Regions from separate parts of the Homo sapiens genome. Here regions 1, 2 and 4 are each linked to region 3. Evidence: fine-mapped expression QTL. A gene starts in region 3. Each other region holds a variant in brackets. All regions are shown on one strand. Distances are between the middles of the regions.

What was found. PIP is the estimated chance that this variant, and not a neighbour inherited with it, causes the effect.
Region 1: its variant is fine-mapped to the expression of GNS in whole blood (TOPMed, PIP above 0.99).
Region 2: its variant is fine-mapped to the expression of GNS in whole blood (TOPMed, PIP above 0.99).
Region 4: its variant is fine-mapped to the expression of GNS in tibial nerve (GTEx, PIP 0.94).

What each region holds. Positions count from the first base shown.
Region 1 is chr12:64,712,901-64,718,049 of GRCh38, reverse strand. GNS (glucosamine (N-acetyl)-6-sulfatase) reads left to right here. Exons shown (of 14, transcript NM_002076.4): 14 at 1,231-4,601. The coding sequence ends at 1,309. Among named protein-coding and RNA genes, the nearest start is that of GNS, 44 kb to the left of the region's middle. The variant C/T (reference allele first, on the strand shown) is at 2,765.
Region 2 is chr12:64,695,177-64,700,325 of GRCh38, reverse strand. It overlaps RASSF3 (Ras association domain family member 3), which reads right to left. Exons shown (of 5, transcript NM_178169.4): 5 at 2,762-5,149. Among named protein-coding and RNA genes, the nearest start is that of GNS, 62 kb to the left of the region's middle. The variant A/C (reference allele first, on the strand shown) is at 2,792.
Region 3 is chr12:64,756,805-64,761,953 of GRCh38, reverse strand. It overlaps GNS (glucosamine (N-acetyl)-6-sulfatase), which reads left to right and starts at 2,548. Exons shown (of 14, transcript NM_002076.4): 1 at 2,548-2,869. The coding sequence starts at 2,678. It overlaps LOC124903113 (small nucleolar RNA U13), which reads left to right and starts at 981; the gene lies at 981-1,086. It also overlaps a transcript of TBC1D30 not described here. RefSeq lists an enhancer at 3,122-4,002.
Region 4 is chr12:64,729,090-64,734,238 of GRCh38, reverse strand. All of the region lies in intron 9 of GNS (glucosamine (N-acetyl)-6-sulfatase), which reads left to right. Among named protein-coding and RNA genes, the nearest start is that of GNS, 28 kb to the left of the region's middle. The variant G/A (reference allele first, on the strand shown) is at 1,931.

The DNA of each region.
Region 1 (5,149 bases), 44 kb after region 3:
GCTGCTTGTGTGCTTCAGCAGCAAAGGAGAATGGTTGGGACAGAGACTGTATGGCTCCCATACCCTAAAATATTTATTATCTGGCCCTTTACAAAAAATCTTGGTCAATTGCAGTTCTAAAATGCAGTAGTCCCCCCTTATCCACAGAGGATCTATTCCAGAACCCACAGTGGATGCGTGAAGCCCCAAGGATAGTGCCAGGCCCAGTTGCCATCAGTTGGAAGATGTTTCTGTTCATGTCTTCTACCCACAAATTTTATGCCTTTTCCATCTTAACTAAGCTTTTGTCATGCACTGTGGCCCTAACTTTTGCAGTTTAAGGTGTGGCAGCAAAACTAGAATTCGTTTTTCCTTCTTCATGATTTCACAGATAGAAGATTCATTCCTGGCTGGGCGCGGTGGCTCACATTTGTAATCCCAGCACTTCGGGAGACCAAGGCGGGCAGATCACATGAGCCCAGGAGTTCTAGACCAGCCTGGGCAACATGGTGAAACTCTTGTCTCTACAAAAAAAAAAAAAAAAAAAAAAAATTAGCCAGGTGTGGTGGCGCACGCCAGTGTTCCCAGCTACTCTGGAGGCTTAAGACAGGAGAATCACTTGAGCCGGAGAGGTGGAGGTTGCAGTGAGCTGAAATTGTGCCACTGCACTCCAGCCTGGGCGACAGACTGACTCTGTCCCCCTGCCAGCGCCCCCACCAAAAATGACTCATGTTTATGGTGAGGCTCTTGTAGGTCTTAGCAGTCTTGCTGTATGATTTTTTTCTTTCCTTATTAAGTCAAGAGCGTTCACTTTTTCACTTAAAGGAAGCACTTTATGGCTTCTCTTTGGCATTTCTGAATTGGCAGCACCACTACTCTTGTGGTTTGGAGCCATTGTTAAATAAAATCAGGGTGACTTGAACACAAGCACTGTAATAATGTAACAGTTGATCCACCCCTACTCCCTCAAAAGAAAAAAATCTCAAATCTTGCTGCCTTCTGACACCTTTCAAGACTAACCTACTTGTTTTTCTCCTCTTGACTTGCACTGTGTGACTTTGTGTGTGCTGACTGGTGATAGAAATGTTCGGAACTGTCGAGGGCTCATGTTTTGTACCATAGACTTTCTCACTAGAGTCCCTTCTGGTGATTTGTTTCTTTTACACCCCTTCCTGCTATCCTTTCCACTGAATAATATTCTGAGTGAGAAGCTAGTGAGAGCTAATGTTACATTTGGTTTTTCCTCCCCAGATACAGGTTTGACCCCCGTCTCATGTTCAGCAATCGCGGCAGTGTCAGGACTCGAAGATTTTCCAAACATCTTCTGTAGCGACCTCACACAGCCTCTGCAGATGGATCCCTGCACGCCTCTTTCTGATGAAGTGATTGTAGTAGGTGTCTGTAGCTAGTCTTCAAGACCACACCTGGAAGAGTTTCTGGGCTGGCTTTAAGTCCTGTTTGAAAAAGCAACCCAGTCAGCTGACTTCCTCGTGCAATGTGTTAAACTGTGAACTCTGCCCATGTGTCAGGAGTGGCTGTCTCTGGTCTCTTCCTTTAGCTGACAAGGACACTCCTGAGGTCTTTGTTCTCACTGTATTCTTTTTATCCTGGGGCCACAGTTCTTGATTATTCCTCTTGTGGTTAAAGACTGAATTTGTAAACCCATTCAGATAAATGGCAGTACTTTAGGACACACACAAACACACAGACACACCTTTTGATATGTAAGCTTGACCTAAAGTCAAAGGACCTGTGTAGCATTTCAGATTGAGCACTTCACTATCAAAAATACTAACATCACATGGCTTGAAGAGTAACCATCAGAGCTGAATCATCCAAGTAAGAACAAGTACCATTGTTGATTGATAAGTAGAGATACATTTTTTATGATGTTCATCACAGTGTGGTAAGGTTGCAAATTCAAAACATGTCACCCAAGCTCTGTTCATGTTTTTGTGAATTCTAGGCTGGTGCTGCACTGAAATAGAGCAGTAAGCTTGTGATAAAGGCCAATTCCAGGTAGCTCTTGAAGGTGATAGCCATCTACTTTCCAGTGGCTGCCAACCACAGGGAGTGCCAGTTAACACTGGAAGGATTAAGGCAAGGTCCCTTCTCTTGAGACTCCCCTCTGAGATCTGAAAAATGAAGTGGCTTAGGAACATCAGCAGTGAAGAACTGCCAAGAGTTGGTGAAGGTTGTCTCTTCCGAGGGCCTTCTGAAGACAGGGCTCTTGAACAGACAAGTGGAAGGGCTGTACCAGGGATAAAGGAAAGAAGTGCCTGTCCAGCAGGGAGCTTGAATTTAAGTTCCATGTATGAAGTCATTGGCTCTATCTGCATTTTTCTGTCATTCTCTTCATTTGTTTTAAGGTGGAAAATTTTCTTACAGTTGATGCAAAGTATCAACTACTTTACCCTACCTTCTCCCCTTTTAGATGGGTTCTTCCTGAGTTTTGGAGTCTTGTATGATTATCAGTATTCCCCTGTCAAAATCAAATCTATTCAGGTTTCTTCACTGTTGAGAACACCTAAATGTTTTTATTTTTGAGAAGTGGGGACAGAGTCTCACTATGTCACCCAGGCTGGAGTGCAATGGCATGATCTCAGCTCACTGCAACCTTCGCCTCCTGGGTTCAAGCGATTCTCCTGCCTCCGCCTCCTGAGTAGCTGGGATTATAGGCACGCACCACCACGCCCAGCTAATTTTTTGTATTTTTAGTAGAGACAGAGTTTCACCATGTTGGCCAGGCTGGTCTTGAACTCCTGACCTTGTGATCCACCCACCT[C/T]GGCCTCCCAGAGTGCTGGGATTACAGGCATGAGCCACCACGCTTGGCTAAGAACACCTAAATTTTTATGTTTCTTGGCTCAAAAACCAGTTCCATTTCTAATGTTGTCCTCACAAGAAGGCTAATTGGTGGTGAGACAGCAGGGGAGGAGGAAGAGCTGTGGTTTGTAACTTGTTCAACTCAGGCAATAAGCGATTTTAGCTTTATTTAAAGTCTTCTGTCCAGCTTTAAGCACTTTGTAAGACATGGCTGAAAGTAGCTTTTCTATCAGAATTGCAGATAGTCATGTTGGGCTAACAGTCAATTGGATATATTCCTTTACCTCACATGACCCCAGCAACTGTGGTGGTATCTAGAGGTGAAACAGGCAAGTGAAATGGACACCTCTGCTGTGAATGTTTTAGAGAAGGAAATTCAAAAAATGTTGTAACTGAAAGCACTGTTGAATATGGGTATCGGCTTTCTTTTTCACTTTGACTCTTAACATTATCAGTCAACTTCCACATTAATGAAAGTTGACCATAGTTATTTCCAAATAAAAAGAAACCAACTCTTACCAGGTCTTGGACTGTGATGTCATATTATTCAGTTTTATGCTTGTTCCTGAGCAGAACTCATAAGAGTGACATAGTCAGCTGCTGACGGCACCTCAGCCACGCCACTCTTACTCAGTTCAGTGGGTGTGCTTGCGTGGTAGGATGTGGTGCAGCCCTCTCTACGCTCTTCTATTTTTGGTATATTTCCTATCTAACCTTCAAATAGCTTCCAATTCTTTTTTTCTTGGACTGGCTTCATTCTGAATTTGTGCTAAAATAATCTTTCATAAAGAGACCTCAGTTTATAGCGTAACAGACTACACAATGCACTGATGTTTTCATAATGTTTAAGGGACCCACTGCAAGAAGCTTGCTGCCTCCTTTTAATTGTATTCATTTAGATTTTGATTTTCCATGTTAAGAAGGTGAGGTCCATGTTGGTGCCCTTCAGAGTAGAGAACCATGTAAACATTAGGAATGAACAGAGGCCTTAGGAATGAATAGAGAGTTTGCCTTATACAATTTCCTGTTACAAAGCTCTCCCTCTCATGCAAAGTAGGGAACACCTTTTGAGCATCTTTGAATTTGACAAATGGTGCTGTTGCAAACACTTTTTTTTTGAGATGAAGTCTCGCGGTTGTCACCCGGGCTGGAGTGCAGTGGCGTGATCTCGGCTCACTGCAACTTCCACCTCCTGGGTTCCAGCAGTTCTCCTGCCTCAGCCTCCCAAGTAGCTGAGATTACAGGCGCCTGCCACCCCACCTGGCTGATTTTTGTAATTTTAGTAGAGACGGGGTTTCACCATGTTGGCCAGGCTGATTAACTCCTGACCTCAGGTGATCCACCTTTCTCGGCCTCCCAAAGTGCTGGGATTACGGGTGTGAGCCACCGTGCCCGGCCTGCAAACACATTTTAATTGACAACACTAGGGCTGTTGTACAAAATAGTAATGATAGCCATGGAAGTTTTACCTTATTCTGTGAGAAGTGTTCTTAAACTTATTAAGTGTCTAAACTAAGGTTTAGTGCTTTTTTAAAGGAAAGTTGTCCCAGGATTCATCCTAAAGAAAGCAAAAGTTAATTCAACTGATCCACCAATGGAATTAGATGGGTAGAGTTGGGTTCTTGAGTTTTACCACCACTTAGTTCCCACTGAATTTTGTAACTTCCTGTGTTTGCATCCTCTGTTCCTATTCTGCCCTTGCTCTGTGTCATCTCAGTCATTTGACTTAGAAAGTGCCCTTCAAAAGGACCCTGTTCACTGCTGCACTTTTCAATGAATTAAAATTTATTTCTGTTCTAGTGGGAATGTGTCCTTTGTTTTAGTTCACAAGTAGTAATTTTGACAAGATGCTTTCTTCTGATGCAGTTTGTTTTAATCACTCACCTAGTACTGGAAATGGGCTTTCTAGTCAGATCCTATAGTCTCTACCTGTATAGCTCTTACATACATGGCCCCTACTGATAACCCCTGAATGAAGCACCATGTAGAAAATATTTCCTGATAAATCTGTATGTATTTACAGCTTTGGAGAAAAAGTCTTATCTTGGCTGGCTTTCAAACAGACTAGGCTCGCCTTCAAAGGTGCTTTGCCATGTGATCCATTGCTCTAGATGAGGAATGACTTCTTACGGGGTCAACAAACTTCTTATAGGGATAGACGGCCAGTATTTTAGGCTGCCAGGCCATGTGTTCACTGTCACAGCTATTTACCTCTGCTGTTATAACACAAAAGTAGCCATAGAAAATGGATAAGTGTGTGGCTGTGTTCCAATACAATTTTATTTTCAAAAACAAGTAGGTCATAATTTGCCAACCCCAGAGCTTATAGGTTGCCTCATATCTTAGC
Region 2 (5,149 bases), 62 kb after region 3:
CACGCCACTACATTCCAGCCTGGATGACAAGGTGAAACCCCATCCGAAAAAATAAAAAGAAAGCACAGGTCAGCATTTCATTCTATGTGACTTAGTATAATCACCTGAATGAAATGATAAATGAACCAAAATGGATGAGAACACACTGATATCAACAAACCCCAATGGCACCAAAACAGTTACGCTTCTGGGCAAACTGTCCATTACGGCAATTTAACAGACTTTTGCTCCTTTACTCAATAGGCAATTTAACTGAGAAACTAGAGAGCACTTACAGGAAAAGATGGTAGAGAAACGGGGCAGTGTCCGGCTCTGCCACTCACTCACACAGTGGCCTTGAGCAAGCTGCTAAACCTCAACATGTCCATTTCCACATTTGTGAAAAAAGGGATATGACGAAATAGTGTGATAACGTCACAGGAGAGTCAATGAGTTGATACATATTAAGCATTTCAGAAGAATGCCTAGCACATGGTAAGCACTTTGTTGGCATTGGCTACTATAGTGTAGACCTTCACCACCACCCTTTTTTTTTTTTTTTTTTTTTTTGAGATAGAGTCTTGCTCTGTTGCCCAGGCTGGAGTACAGTGGCGCAATCATGGCTCACTGCAGTACTCACGGCTCACTGGAGTACAGTGGCGCAATCACGGGGCTTGAACCCCGCCTCCCGGGTTCAAGCAATTCTCCTGCCTCAGCCTCTTGAGTAGCTGAGACAGCAGTCGTGTGCCACCACGCCTGGCTAATTTTTATATTTTTAGCAGAGAAGAGGTTTTGCCATGTTGGCCAACCTGGTCTTGAACTCCTGGCCTCAAGAGATCAGCCCGCCTTGGCCTCCCAGAGTGCTGGGATTACAGGCATGAGCCACTGTGCCTGGCCCCTTTTCTTTTTTTTTTTTTTTGAGACGGAGTTTCACTTTGTCGCCCAGGCTAAGTGCAATGGGGCGATCTCGGCTCACTGCAACCTCCGCCTCCCTGGCTCAAGCAATTCTCCTGCCTCAGCCTCCTGAGTAGCTGGGATTACAGGTGTGCGCCACCACGCCCAGCTAATTTTTGTATTTTTAGTAGAAACGGGGTTTCACCATGTTTGGTCAGGCTGGTCTCAAACTCCTGACCTCATGATCTGCCCACCTCGGCCTCCCAAAATGCTGGGATTACAGGCATGAGCCACCGCGCCCAGCCCCCTTCTTTCAATAAAACAAAATACCTAATTAGCGTTATCTGACAGTGTCTCCGAATTTGTCACCAACTGATAACTGTTGTTTCAATAAATATTCATGTGAGCCAGGCACGGTGGCTCACACCTGTAATCCCAGCACTCTGGGAGGCCAAGGCCGGCAGATTACCTGAGGTCAGGAGTTTGAGACCACCTTGGCCAACAGGGTGAAACCCCGTCTTTACTAAAAATACAAAAATTAGCCAGGTGTGGTGGCACACGCCTGTAATCCCATCTACTCCAGAGGCTGAGGCAGGACAATTGCTTGAACCTAGGAGGTAGAGGTTGCAGTGAGCCCAGATCGTGCCACTGCACTCCAGCCTGGGAGACAGAGTGAAACTCTATCTCAAAAAAAAAGGTTTTTTTTTAGTAATAAAAATTGACTTAAAAAAAAAAGTCCTACCTGTAATCCCAGCACTTTGGGAGGCTGAGGTGTGTTGGTCACTTGAGGTCAGGAGTTTGAGACCAGCCTAGCCAACGTGGAGAAACCCCGTCGCTACTAAAAATACAAAAAAAAAAATTAGTCGGGTATGGTGGCAGGCACCTGTAATCCCAGCTACTAGGGAGGCTGAGGCAGGAGAATCGCTTGAACCTGGGAGGTGGAGGTTACAGTGAGCCAAGATCATGCCACTGCACTCTAGCCTGGGTGGCACATTGAGACTCCATCTCCAAAAAAAATAAAGGATAAAAATATAAAAATTCCCAAACATTCTCCACGCACCTTGGGTAGTAACCCAAGTAGAACCCCCAAACCTGATTCCTCTGAATATTTCAGTAGAAAAGCAAAATTATACAGAGCCATAATTTTCTATCACAGTATTTTTATTTAGGGAGCAGCTATGGTACGTGAAAGGCCTCTACCACCTGGTGCCAGCCTTGCTCCTTTCATCAGCCCCTCCAGGGGGCAGTGTAGTAGTAAAAACACTCCCAACAGCAGGCATGGAAGCTGAAACCATGGCACAAAGCCGAGGTGCAGGTGCGCAGAGGGTGGCACTCCATCGTCCCTGTGGTTCCCCAGACACTATCCATCCCATCTGTGTAAGGCAGTCATGGTGACCAAAAAAATACAAATACTCACTTTATGTTGAAGTGGTATGTTTCAGGGGTAGGAGACCTCAGGGCAAGAACAGGGGTGGAGGGAGAGATTTCTAAAGAACTGACAAGGTTCTATTTTAGTAATGGTCAGGGGGTGTCCATTTTATATAATAATCCTTTAAACTGTTCGCATGCTTTTTTATTTTTATTTTTTCACTCTCGGCCTCCCTCCTCTTTTGCATGCTTTATATACTTTTAAATGTGTATATTTCAAAAATTAAAACAATTGTTTTAAATACATTGGAATATGCTGTGTGAGCTTAGGGTTATTTTTCCTCAGAGGATAAGGCAAAGAGAAAATGATATCTGGGAGAACAAATATGACCCACGCGAACCTAGTAAAGTTGTTGCATTCCAGCATGTGTCCCTGTGTATATGTGCAAAAGCAGCTCAGCGCACTCCTGTGACCTTTTTAAATCTAGCATATTATCATAAATAAACACACATAAACAACTAATAACTTCAATTTTTAATAATGGAAACA[A/C]TTTTGCCATTCTAGAAACTATTTTAGGGGAGAAAAATCTTCCCTACAAAAATAAACTTAAACCCATCAAAATTATAAATATTATAACTTTTTACTTCTGCCATTTAAAATGCTCTCCTGCAATACCACCCCTTCATTTAACATCCTTCCTGTACCATCACATATTGAAGAGAAAACAGTATTACAGCAAAGCTTAGATAGTTTAACATAATGATTTGTACAATGATTCTTAAAAAATCTTTGGCCTTAGTGGCCTTTTTTCTTCACTTACACATTAAAAATGCTGCTGCAGTAACCAGTGTTTGGGAAAGGACATCAGTCTTCAAGAACCATAAACTGACAGAATTTCAATACAGTAGGTTTCCAAATTGCAATTTGTAGTGCACATGACAGTAAGCGAGGTTTTGGGTAAATATAGATGAGGATGCCTATTCAGACAATCTACTTCAAGTAAAAAAAAAAAAAAAAAAAAAATTCACAGATACCCATCAGCTACTACTTTAGGTTCTAACAGTGTCTTAATCTGAGAAACAAATGCTTCACAAAATATAAGTTTACTGGGATGAATAATTAAAAAACCAGGTGGTAATAACAATATACTCAAATCCAGGCCATAGTCTGAATAATAAAACCAGTACAAAAAATCACGAAGGCATTCCCTGAACAATAAAGGTAAAGTGTTGGATGACAATGTCACTAAAACCTCATCAATGTACAAAAGAGAAGTTACATGCAAAATTAAACAAGATGTGCCATACATATTTTATAGCTAATTCTATTTTTTTCAACTTTCCTTAAATGCTTAGGAAGATATGATTGTCTCAGTAAATTGTGTGGCACAGCATAACAACTTAAGTCTGCCTCCAACAAGATGGGTATTCTCCAAAAAGTCAGAAGAGCCACCAAGAGACGAACAGAAATGCAATAAAAGGCACAGTTCACTTGGGCAAAGAACTGAAGCACCTTGGAATTTCAAAAAGAATCCATTAGGTGTCACCAAAGTGTTAACAATTCCTTGGGAATTTATAAACAAAAAATATCTAGACTAAAAATAGAATATAAGGCCCCTCTGGAACCACTGCACACCTTTCCCTCTGTTCTCAGATTAAACTGCTGCATAAAATGAGGTTATTTAGCCTGTTTTTAAGGAAGGCTTCTATTGCACATGCATCTCTTTGGTTGGTAATAACATGTACTTTTGTTAAAATATTTCCATAATGAAGCCCTGTTGTGTGGTTAGCTGGGTGTGGACTTTCCTCCCTTTCTTGGGGGCCCTCCTACTCACAGTCAAGTTGCCCTTTAGAACTAAAGATCTGGTAGGATTGGGTCTTTATTCAATAGCCCTGTTCTCTATTATGTAAGAACAGATTTCAATGTAGAAAAGAAAGGGAGAGGGAGAGAGAGGGAGGGAAGGAGGGAGGGAGGGAGGGAGGGAGGGAGGGAGGGAGGAAAAGAACAAGGTAGGGTGGGAGACAGCAGGGAAGGAAAGAAAAAAGGGAAGAAAGGAAAAGGAAAGGAGGAATAAAAGGGAAGAGAGTGATTGTCACCAAAGTTTACTTGACAAATATCCTAGCTAACAATCAAGGGAAAAACAGCTGCCCCTACCCAAATTCCGTCTCAACTTTGAAAACCACCTGTGGGGGGAAAGCTATACACTATGTAACTTAACAAGAGTTAGTGAACTGTCACTGTCCTGCCTATGCAGAGCAGCTACACCAATCAGACCTTCCACTCCAAAAGGGCAGAATTAAAGGGTCGGATCCAGCTGCGTGAGGCCCACCTCTGCCCAGGTCAGTAGGCTACACCTGCCTGATTCTCTGATTGGTCAGCTGCAGAGTTCATGGGTCCCTCCTTTTGGTTTAGCTCCTGCCTCTGGCTCTGTTCCCATATTCTACCCACCAGGAAACCAAGCGATCCTAAAATGGGTTTAACACCTCCACACTGAATGCTTTTAACTCGTTTACAAGCAACTACCCCTTTCTCCACTACCCCTAACTGAAAAGCCAAGTCACCTTCCATAGCCCGCAGCACTCGCCACCACCGCACATGCCTTCTTCCAAACTTACACTTTGCTTTCTCTGTCAACCCCCTAACAAAATCCTTCACAATAAATTCCTCAGAGTTCCTAGATTCCTGTGCCTTTCGATTCACATGGATAGATTCCTCTGACATTAAAAAAAGAAAACAAAACCAAACAAAAAACCAGACAGGTAGTTTCAAAATAGGACAAGTATTCAGAAAGATTCCTAGTTAAGCTTTTTAAAAAATCAACTGCATATCTGTAAGCTTAACAGCATCATCACATAATTAAAATAACCAAAAAAAAAAACACCCCCAGAGTTCATGCTTCCAAGCACC
Region 3 (5,149 bases):
CAAATTCCATGAACGAGGGACAATGTCTCTTCAGCACTAGTGTAGCAGTGTTACCGGAAAGGGGTCCTGATCCAGACATCAAGAAAGGGTTCTTGGATCTCGAGCAAGGAAGAATTCAGGACAAGACCATAGAGTAAAGTGAAAGAAAGTTTATTAAGAAAGTAGAGGAATAAAAGAATGGCTACTCCATAGGCAGAGCAGCCCGAGGGCTACTCGTTGCCCATTTTTATGGTTATTTCTTGATGATATGCTAAACAAGGGATGGATTATTCATGCCTCCCCTTTTTAGACCAGAGAGGGTACCTTCCTGACATTCCCATGGCGTTTGTAAACTGTCATGGCGCTGGGTGGGAATTTAGCAGTGAGGACGACCAGAGGTCACTTTCATCACCATCTTGGTTTTGGTGGGTTTTAGTCGGCTTCTTTACTGCTACCTGTTTCATCAGTAAGGTCTTTATGACATGCATCTTGTATCTTGTATCTTTATGACCTCCTATCTCATCCTGTGACTTAGAATGCATAACCATCTGGGAATGCAGCATAGCAGGCCTCAGGCTTATTTTACTCAGCCCCTTTTCAAGATGGAGTTGCTCTGGTTCAATCGCCTCTGACAGCAGCATCCTGAACAAAGTGGGCAACTAATTACACAATTTCTGGCCTCAAATAGTTTATAATCTAACCTTGAAAAAAATAGAAAAGAAACAATTTTACAATTTGGGGCTTCGATACAGATGAAATAGGTTATTTTTTTGTGCAAGAAAGTCTTCCTGGAAGTCTTGAAACCTGAATACAGAAGGATTAGTTATTCTAACCAGCTTGAAAAATTGGCCTAGGCCAAGGCTGTAACCAAGTATTCTGGTTGTCTAGGAACTGCTCTGACCACACTTCCGGCATAATTGTTTCTTGCAGAAAAACTACTTCAGTTTTTTTAAAGCTTCTTTTGCCTTCTGTAGGCTTACTTAAAAAAAAAAAGTATTAAGATCCTTTTGTGGTTCATAAGCCTGATGATTGGGTTTTCATGCTATTGTGTGAGTTACCACCCCTACCTCAAACCTTGTTAGGACTCCGCGCATTACCCCTCTGTGTGAAAAAAACAAAGTAATAAAGGTAATTTTTTTTTTTTTGCATAAGCCCTATCCTTGTACACATCAGGTTTCAACGTGTTTCCATCATTATTTTTACCTTATAGTATAGTGTTTTCACGAGTTTTTTTTTTTAATACTTTAAGTTCTGGAATAGTTTTCACGAGTTTTAAGAGACTCTTCTTGGCAAACAGTTCAACTCAGAGAAAATACTTTTACCAGCAAGGAGGTATACCTTGTTATATCGGTCTGGGGATGTGACTTGACAGTTCACCTTGCCAGGAATATCTCTGTGATTTTTTGTTTGTTTGTTTGTTTTGAGACAAGAGTCTCGCTCTGTCCCTGAGGCCAGAGTGCAGTGGCTCACTGCAAGCTCCGCCTCCCGGGTTCAAGCGATTCTCATGCCTCAGCCTCCCGAGTAGCTGGGATTACAGGCGCCTGCCACCACGCCCAGCTAATTTTTGTATTTTAGTAGAGACGGGGTTTCCCCACGTTGGCCAGGCTGGTCTAAAACTCCTGACCTCAGGTGATCCACCCGCCTCCCAAAGTGCTGGGATTACAAGCGTGAGCCACCGCGCCCACGGTGGGCGGTGAGAGGAGAGGGGCAAAGTCTAATTATTCCAGAGCGACCACAGAAATATCTGGAGCTAGTTTCAAGGGCTATTCCCCGCTAAAGATTACTTAATAATGCAGTTGGATGACCACGTTTCAAGATTTTTGTTCGATCTGCACATCCTCCAACATGTTCCAAGAGGGTGTTTAAAAAGTCACCAAGGACCATTAGGATAACCATTAGGATAAAGCTGTCAGGACATCCCTAAATTGTTTGAAACTACGATGTCTGCTGAGGAAAGAAGAACATAATTAGGCTTTGGAGTTAAGAGAGCTAACCAGTTCCGAATTTAATGTCTGAGCCAAATGAGAATGTTAAGATTTATCTCACAAGTTGTAGAGAAAATTAAAAACGATTAAACATCCGGGCCTTGAATAAGTGCCCGTCGACTTGGGGATTAAATATGGTAGAGTCCACTTTCCTCACCAGCTGATGATAATTTCTGTTATGTACAGTCCTCCTTTCTCTTCCTTTATCGGTTGGTTAGTATTTGCCAACTCTTTCCTGCTTTTCATCTTCTCTTCCCCCCATTTAAATCTTTCCACCAAGCGCTCAGAAACACGTACGTCCTACCAGAACGCAACCCGAGCCTGCGCGAGAGGTACGTACAGGTCTTGACCTTTTCCCGGTTCTCCGCCCTTTTCCCGGTTCTCCGCCCTTTTCTCCGGTTCTCCGCCCTTTTCTCCGGTTCTCCGCCCTTTTCTCCGGTTCTCCGCCCCTTTTCCGCCACTGCCTGATGCCTCCCTCCAGGCTGCGCCAGTCCGCAGCCCCGCCCACGCCGGCCGTCACGTGACCGCGCAGCGTGCTCCGCCCCCTGTCCCTGGCTCACGTGATCGCGCCTAGGGAGAAAACGTCTGACTCCAGCCACCGGCCTTCAAGGCACGGCTTTTTATTCCTTCGGCTGGTCGGCCTCTCGCCCTTCAGCTACCTGTGCGTCCCTCCGTCCCGTCCCGTCCCGGGGTCACCCCGGAGCCTGTCCGCTATGCGGCTCCTGCCTCTAGCCCCAGGTCGGCTCCGGCGGGGCAGCCCCCGCCACCTGCCCTCCTGCAGCCCAGCGCTGCTACTGCTGGTGCTGGGCGGCTGCCTGGGGGTCTTCGGGGTGGCTGCGGGAACCCGGAGGCCCAACGTGGTGCTGCTCCTCACGGACGACCAGGACGAAGTGCTCGGCGGCATGGTAACTCTTCTGTTTCTGCCCCGCCCCTCTATCTCTTGGGCTGACTACCCGGTTTGTTGCTCTCTTTCCCGGTCCCCACCACCCTCCTCCCCGAACTGGCTGTCTTATCCTTGGGTAGGTTTGGTTTTCCCACCTGAGGCCCTTTATGCCGGTGTAAGGGACTGCAATACTCTTTTCCTTTCTGGATTGAGGCACATGCGTACAGCACACAGAGCTTCTAGTCTGGACCGTACTGCTGTGGAGTTTACGTTAATATCTCAAGATAAACATGTGGAGACCAGTGGAGGATGGGTTGAACCAATGAGGATCAGGTGCTGTCTAAGAGCACTCAAGGCCTGATTGTTTTTCTTTTGGATTAGAGGATCACAGACAAGTCCAGTCCCCTTTATGAGGGACCTAGACCACCTCCACGTTTGTGCCTGTATACAATGTCTGTATCTGATGTCAATAAAAATAAGCCTGGGCCGGGCGCGGTGTGTCACTCATGTAATCCCAGCACTTTGGGAGGCCGAGGCGGGCGGATCAGAAGGTCAAGAGATCGAGACCATCCTGGCCAACATGGTGAAACCCCGTCTCTACTAGAAATACAATAATTCTAGCTGGGCGTGGTGGCGCGCAGCTGTAGTCCCAGCTACTTGGGAGGCTGAGGAAGGAGAATCGCTTGAACCCGGGAGGCAGCAGTTGCAGTGAGCCGAGATCGCGCCACTGCATTCCAGCCTGGCGACAGAGCGAGACTCCGTCTCCAAAAAAAAAAAAAAAAAAAAAAAAAAAAAAAGGCCTGAAGTGAACTAATCTGGTAGGCCGACCGTCGAACTATTGAGGGTGTGTGTTGCCTCACAAGAATCAAGAAAATTCAATTAGTGTGATTGAACACCTGACTGTTGCATTAGAGACTGTCAGTGTTTCATTTTCTATCTAATGGGTGTTGTCACAAGACTTCATTTTTTTTCCAGAGTAAATTTTGCTTGTGTATTGCAGAATTATGGAATGTGTGACCTTTGGAAACATCCACTCCAACCCCTTCCCCATGGAGGCCCAGAAAGCAACTTGCCCAAGACATGAGTAGTTGAGGCAGAGTCCTCTGACCCTGGGTTCAGCATTCCTCTCTTCGCTTTAAAACCAAATGCTTTATTGCTTTCTTCGTTTCAGTTCTCTTTTTGCTTTCAGCTGAATGCTGAGACTATGAAATACTCCAGGCAAGACGTTCCTAACTTTTCTTGTGTAGTTACACACCCTAGCTCAGTGTCCTTCAAACCTCTGGTCCCAACCCTTGAGTGAGTTATGAAATCAGTTTAGTGAGTAACTACCAACATTTTTTATTTCCTCTGGAATAGAATAGAATAGAAAAGGTCCATGTGTGTGAGTGTGTGTGTTACACTTGATAAAGGTAATCATTATCTATCTCTCTTTCTTCCCGAGTTGTAAAATATATTTCTTAGGTTGATGCTCAAGAGCTTGAGAGTCTTTTATAGCTGATGTTTTAAGAGGCTTGCATTTTGACTACACATTTCTTCCTGCCATATATGCTTCATTGTCTGTTAGTTTCTACCAAGCCATGTTGACATTGGTCTTAATTTAATTTTCCTCCTACACTTTAGGTTCACTACTCTTCCAACTACTGCACTTACTTGTCTGCTCACAAAATTCCTTTTTTATTAAAAAAAAGAAAATGTGTCCTTGAAGAGTGTTTTGTCCAGAAAAAGCAAGCCTTCTCTAGCAGTGACTTAAGTACTCAGTTAAAAGGTCAGGCTTTTTTAGGTGTTGAAAACAAAATTGATTACTTAAATATAAGGTATTCAGAGTTGTTTCTTCAATTCTTATAAACCACAGCTGTAGTCTGTGTGTATTTGAGGTCTCTTTAGTATGTTAATCCAATTTGCTTCGTTAAGCCAGTAGCAGATTTTTTGAGTCAGGGTCTTGCTCTGTCATCCAGGCTGGAGTGCAGTGGTACAATCAAGGCTCATTGCAGCCTTGAACTCCTAGTCTCAAGCAGTCCTCCTGCCTCAGTCTCCCTAGTAGCTGGAACTACAGGCACATGTCACTACGTCCAGCTAATTTTTAAATATTTTGTAAAGACAGGATTTCTCCATGTTGCCCAAGTCGGTCTTGAACTCCTGGACTCAAGTAACTCTTGAACTCCTGAACTCTTGAACTCCTGGACCTCAGCCTCCCAAAGTGCTGGGATTACAGGCATGAGCCACTGTCTCGGCCCAGATTCTTTTTTTTAATAAGTGTTTCTACTGGAGAGAGGTACCAAAATTGAGTGGAGGGCATAAGTCA
Region 4 (5,149 bases), 28 kb after region 3:
GGTCGCAAAGTAAGTGGCAGATCAGGGACTGAAAATTAAGTCTGTGCATTCTCAGAATTTACATTGCTGCATTGACAGGTGTAATTTGAGAAGCATGAAATGCCCCAGCTTTCCCCTGGCACAAAGAATGTCGGAGACGATGGGTGATGCATCATGTGTTGGCAGCATAGTTGTCTCAGTGCCAGCTGTTCTGTGTGAGTGGCACAGGCTTGTGAGTTGGGCATAATGAGCTGAGCTGTCAGCAGCCTTGACAGCCAGATCAGTGCACATTTAACTGACTGGTGGACTTAAGCTGTGTGGGAGAAATGGGACAAGGTCATATGTGTAGATGTCAAAGATTGACTATTGACGTTTTCTCCTCTGACTAGTTTAGCTTTAGATTTGGTGGTAGAAGTTCTGCAAAAGGAATTCTAAAAAGGAAAAGGTTAGTAGGAAAACTAGAATGACACAGCACCGTCCCAGGGAAATAGAACTGAACTGGGAGTCAGGAAGACGACCTGTTGGCTTTGGACAAAATCAGCCTTGGTTCCCCTACTTTTGTAAAAGTAAGAGGATGTTAAGCCTCCATTATCAGGTGGAACCAGGTGATGCCCCAGCTTCTTCCTTGTCAGGAAAGCTGGAACTGAGGGGCAAGTCCAGCTGAAGCAACCAAGATATGGGATTCTGCACTTTCTCATGTAGTTACAGTGCTTTTCACTAAATGGATTTGGGGTGCTTTCTGGTATGTTTGGAGCCTTTTCTTTGATAACTCTACAGAAATTCAACATCAGGGTTTGGGTGTCTGGAAACCTGATGTGTTCTGAGAGCCCGTTGCCATCTTGTTCTTTTCAGTAATTATGCAAGTGTCATTCTTTCAGAGCAAGAATAAGCAGGTTCAATGCATGATACCCTTTGATTTAAGCCCCAGGAATTTTTTTTTTTTTTTTTTTTTTTTTTTTTTTGAGACAGGGTCTTGCTCTGTAACTTAGGCTGGAGTGTGGTGGCACAATCTTGGCTCACTGCATCCTCCACCTCCCAGGCTCAGGTGATTCTCCTACCTCAGCCTCCTGAGTAGCTGGGACTATAGGTGCACACCACCATGCCCAGCTAATTTTTGTTTTTTGTTTTTTGTTTGTTTGTTTGTTTTTGTAGAGACGGGGTTTCATTATGTTGCCCAGGCTGGTCTGGAACACCTGGGCTCAAGCAATCAGCCCTCCTCCCCTCATTACAGGCATGAGCCACCACAGCCAGTCTACCCCAGGGTTTTCTAAGGACTTTCATTTGATTAGGATATTTATATACTTAAATCCTAAGAACATTCTCAACCTGAGAAAGTGATTTATCAAATAATTTATTTTTTTGTCTGGGCATGGTGGCTCACGCCTGTAATCCTAGCACTTTGGGAGGCCAAGGCAGGTGTGGATCACCTGAGGTCAAGAATTTGAAACCAGCCTGGCCAACATGGTGAAACCTTGTCTCTACTAAAAATACAAAAATTAGGCCAGGCGCGGTGGCTCACGCCTGTAATGCCAGCACTTTGGGAGGCCGAGGCAGGCGGATCAGGAGGTCAGGAGATCGAGACCATCCTGGCTAACACAGTGAAACCCCGTCTCTACTAAAAAATACAAAAAATTAGCCAGGTGTGGTGGCGGGCGCCTATAGTCCCAGTTACTCGGGAGACTGAGGCAGGAGAATGGTGTGAACCCAGGAGGCGGAGCTTGCAGTGAGCCAAGATCACACCACTGCACTCCAGCCTGGGCAACAGAGTGAGACTCCATCTCAAAAAAAAAGAGGCTGGGCGCGGTGGTTCACACCTGTAATCCCAGCACTTTGGGAGGCTGAGTCAGGCGGATCACGAGGTCAGGAGATCGAGGCCATCCTGGCTAAAACGGTGAAACCCCGTCTCTACTGAAAATACAAAAAAAGTAGCTGGGCGTGGTGGCAGGCGCCT[G/A]TAGTCCCAGCTACTTGGGAGGCTGAGGCAGGAGAATGGCATCAAACCGGGAGGCAGAGCTTGCAGTGAGCTGAGATCGTGCTACTGTACTCCAGCCTGGGTGACAGAGTGAGACTCCGTCTCAAAAAAAAAAAAAAAACAACAAAAAAAAAAAATTAGCCAGGTGTGGTGGCAGGTGCCTGTAATCCCAACTACTTGGGAGGCTGAAGCAAGAGTATTGCTTGAACCCAGGAGGTGGAGATTGCAGTGAGCCGAGATCGCACCATTGCACTCCAGCCTGGGCAACAGAGCAAAAAATCTGTCTCAAAAAATAGATATATTTTTGGTCTTGTCAAAGCTTTTTCTGTTCCAATCCGTAAATGATTTTTTTGTTTGTTTGAGATAGGTGCTCTCTCACCAGGTTGGAATGTGGTGGCTCAAACATGGCTCACTGCAGCCTTGGCCTCCTGAGCTCAAGTGATCCTCCTGCCTTGGCCTCCCAAAGTGCTGGGATTACCAGCGAGAGCCACTGTGCCCAGCCCTTAAATGAATTTTTAAGTTTATACTAGACAAAAGCAATACTGTGAAACTAGTGTTTCTCAAAGTCATCACATTGATGGGTGAATCCATCCAAATTCTTGGTTATATAAAAACCAGAGGTAGGTATAATTCTTTTTAACTCTTCATTCATACTTGGTATTTGCTAGAAGTCTCCCATCTCCTGATATAGTATGCTAATTTTGAGACTGTCCGCTTATTCAAATAAAATTCTAGAAGAGGAGACATTTTATCCATTATATTTAGGGGAGTGTGATCATTATAGATTTCTAGGGAGAAGGAGTCCTGGAATGACTTGTGCTTACGGTACTTGTGCTGAATCTTAGTGACTTTGGATTTATACTGGAACTTACCCCTTTATCTCCAGAGAGCAAAATGCCATTAGAAAGAGCCTCGGCTGGGTGCAGTGGCTCACGCCTGTAATCCCAGCACTTTGGGAGGCCAGGGCAGGCGGATCACTTGAATTCAGAAGTTTGAGACCAGCCCAGGCAACATGGCATTGCTACGAAAAATAAAAAAATACAAAATTTAGCTGGGCATCATGGTGTGTACCTGTAGTCCCAGTTGCTCTGGATGCTGAGGCAGGAGGATCAGTTGAGTCTGGGAGGTCAAGGCCACAGTGAGCTGTGATTGTGCCACTGCACTCCAGCTCGGGTGACAAAATGAGACCCTGTCTCAAAAAACAACAAAACAAAAAAGAGCTTCCCCCCACCTCACCAAAAAAGGAACAAGCCTCCCATTATACAGGTGGTGGCTCTTGCAATTTTTGGTGAGATGACAGTCACCATTTTATATCTCTGGGTTTTTTTATGTTTCCTCTTTTCTTTTAAAACTGCCTTGGACATCATAGTAGTATCTGAGGAACTGGCTTCACCTCATTCATTTTACAGATATCACTGAAGATCTGTTAGTCACACTTCAGGGTCTGTAGATGGCTTGTTGTCTTGATCTCATTCTGGAGATGGTATCTCTCTCTGACCCTCCTTTCCTGCTGTGACCTCTTCCATATTGACATTCACACTTGATGACTGTTTTCCAAGCTGCTCAGTTTGCCTGGGGGTCTTCGAACCAGGAAAATTATCTGTAACAGTGGGTCTTGTATCATCCCTGGAGACATCGTTTTTTGTGTGTGAGGTTTTTCCCCCACTGAGTAACATATGGATTGCCTTTCTCCTGAAGTGCCTGCCTTTGGGCAGTAATACCTGACAGCTGCAGAGTTAGACTAATTGATTCAGGGCCAGGATATTTATCATTCTGCCCTCTAAGAGCTGTCCTGGCCATCAGGAAACCTGGCCCCTGATAATATTCTGAAGCTTTTTTTTTTTTTTTTTTTTTTTGCCTTTCATATCTGTACTTTTGGTTTTGTTTTTAAATTAAAAGTGGCAGGGCTGGGGTGTTTTTGTTTTGTTTTATCTCCCTGTTTGGCCTCTCCTAAGATGATCTAAATGTTCTCAACAGTTTTGAAGACTGTTACTTCCTGTCAGTAAGTAATGGCTTTTCCAGTTATAAGCTGATAACTTTGCTTCAGTGATTTGTGTTTCATTTCTTCACCTATAAACACTGTGTCCAAGGACTGTGATGAGGAATAAATGAGAATAAATGTCAAATGCCTGGCACAGTAAACTTTAGTTCCCAGTTTTTCTCACTTCCTCTTTGTTTCGCTCAATGGATTGTTTCAGTGCTTGAAGATTTTTCTAGCCTGTGACCAAGTGACTTCTATGCTTACATTCTCTCTAGGCCTGCATTATCCACTTGTGGCTGTCGAGCACTTGAAATGTGGATAGTCCAAATGGAGATGTATTATTATTGTGAAATACCAGATTTCAAAGGCTTGGTTCACAAAAAGTTAAATCTCATTGATTTTTTAAAAAATATTGTTTACATGTTGAAATATTAATATTCAGATATTTTTATAGGAGGTTAAAATATATACAGTTTTACCTGTTTTTATTAATGTGGTTATTGGACAATTTTTAATTACATATGGGGTCCCCTTTATATTTCCATTAGGCTACTCTGGATTAGGCCCTGTAGAGGCATTGTCTTACAGAAGGAAAATAGTCTAATAACCAAGGAAATAAGTCAAAGTATAAATACAGGACAATGCCTTTAGTTTCTAGAATGTTTAAAAACATCTAAGTCTTTTGCTCTTAAAAAAACTTTTATTGCTACATTTTTGGAATAAATTTTCTGCAGCCTTCACAGCCTGTTGCAAACATATTTTGGCAGTGTTGTCCCTTTGAGAAGCTATAAAAAGAGCTAATAATTCTCACTGATGGGAAGCATTCCTTTTTTGAGGCCTTCCAAAATGTCTGGAGTTCATTTGAAATCAAACTTAGTTAATCTGAATAATCAAGTTGTAAGACACTTTGTATAAAATAATTAGACCAACATTTTTCTCATGATTCGCAACAAACTCAAAGCAGTCCCAAAGGAGTTTTCAAAAAACATTTTGATCAATAACAGAATGGGTAGAATAAATATGTAACTTGCCAGGGGGATATACTATTATACAAGCCTTATAAGCCTTTATATTTTGTTTGAAGTTATTATAGTTATATTTGGATCTATGAAACAGACCAAAGTATGGGCTGTATAAAAGGTAATAGTGCTGTTGTCTCATGGGCGGGGTGGGGGGAAGAGAACTTTAGTATAGGTAGAAAAGGAAAATGAGACCAGCTG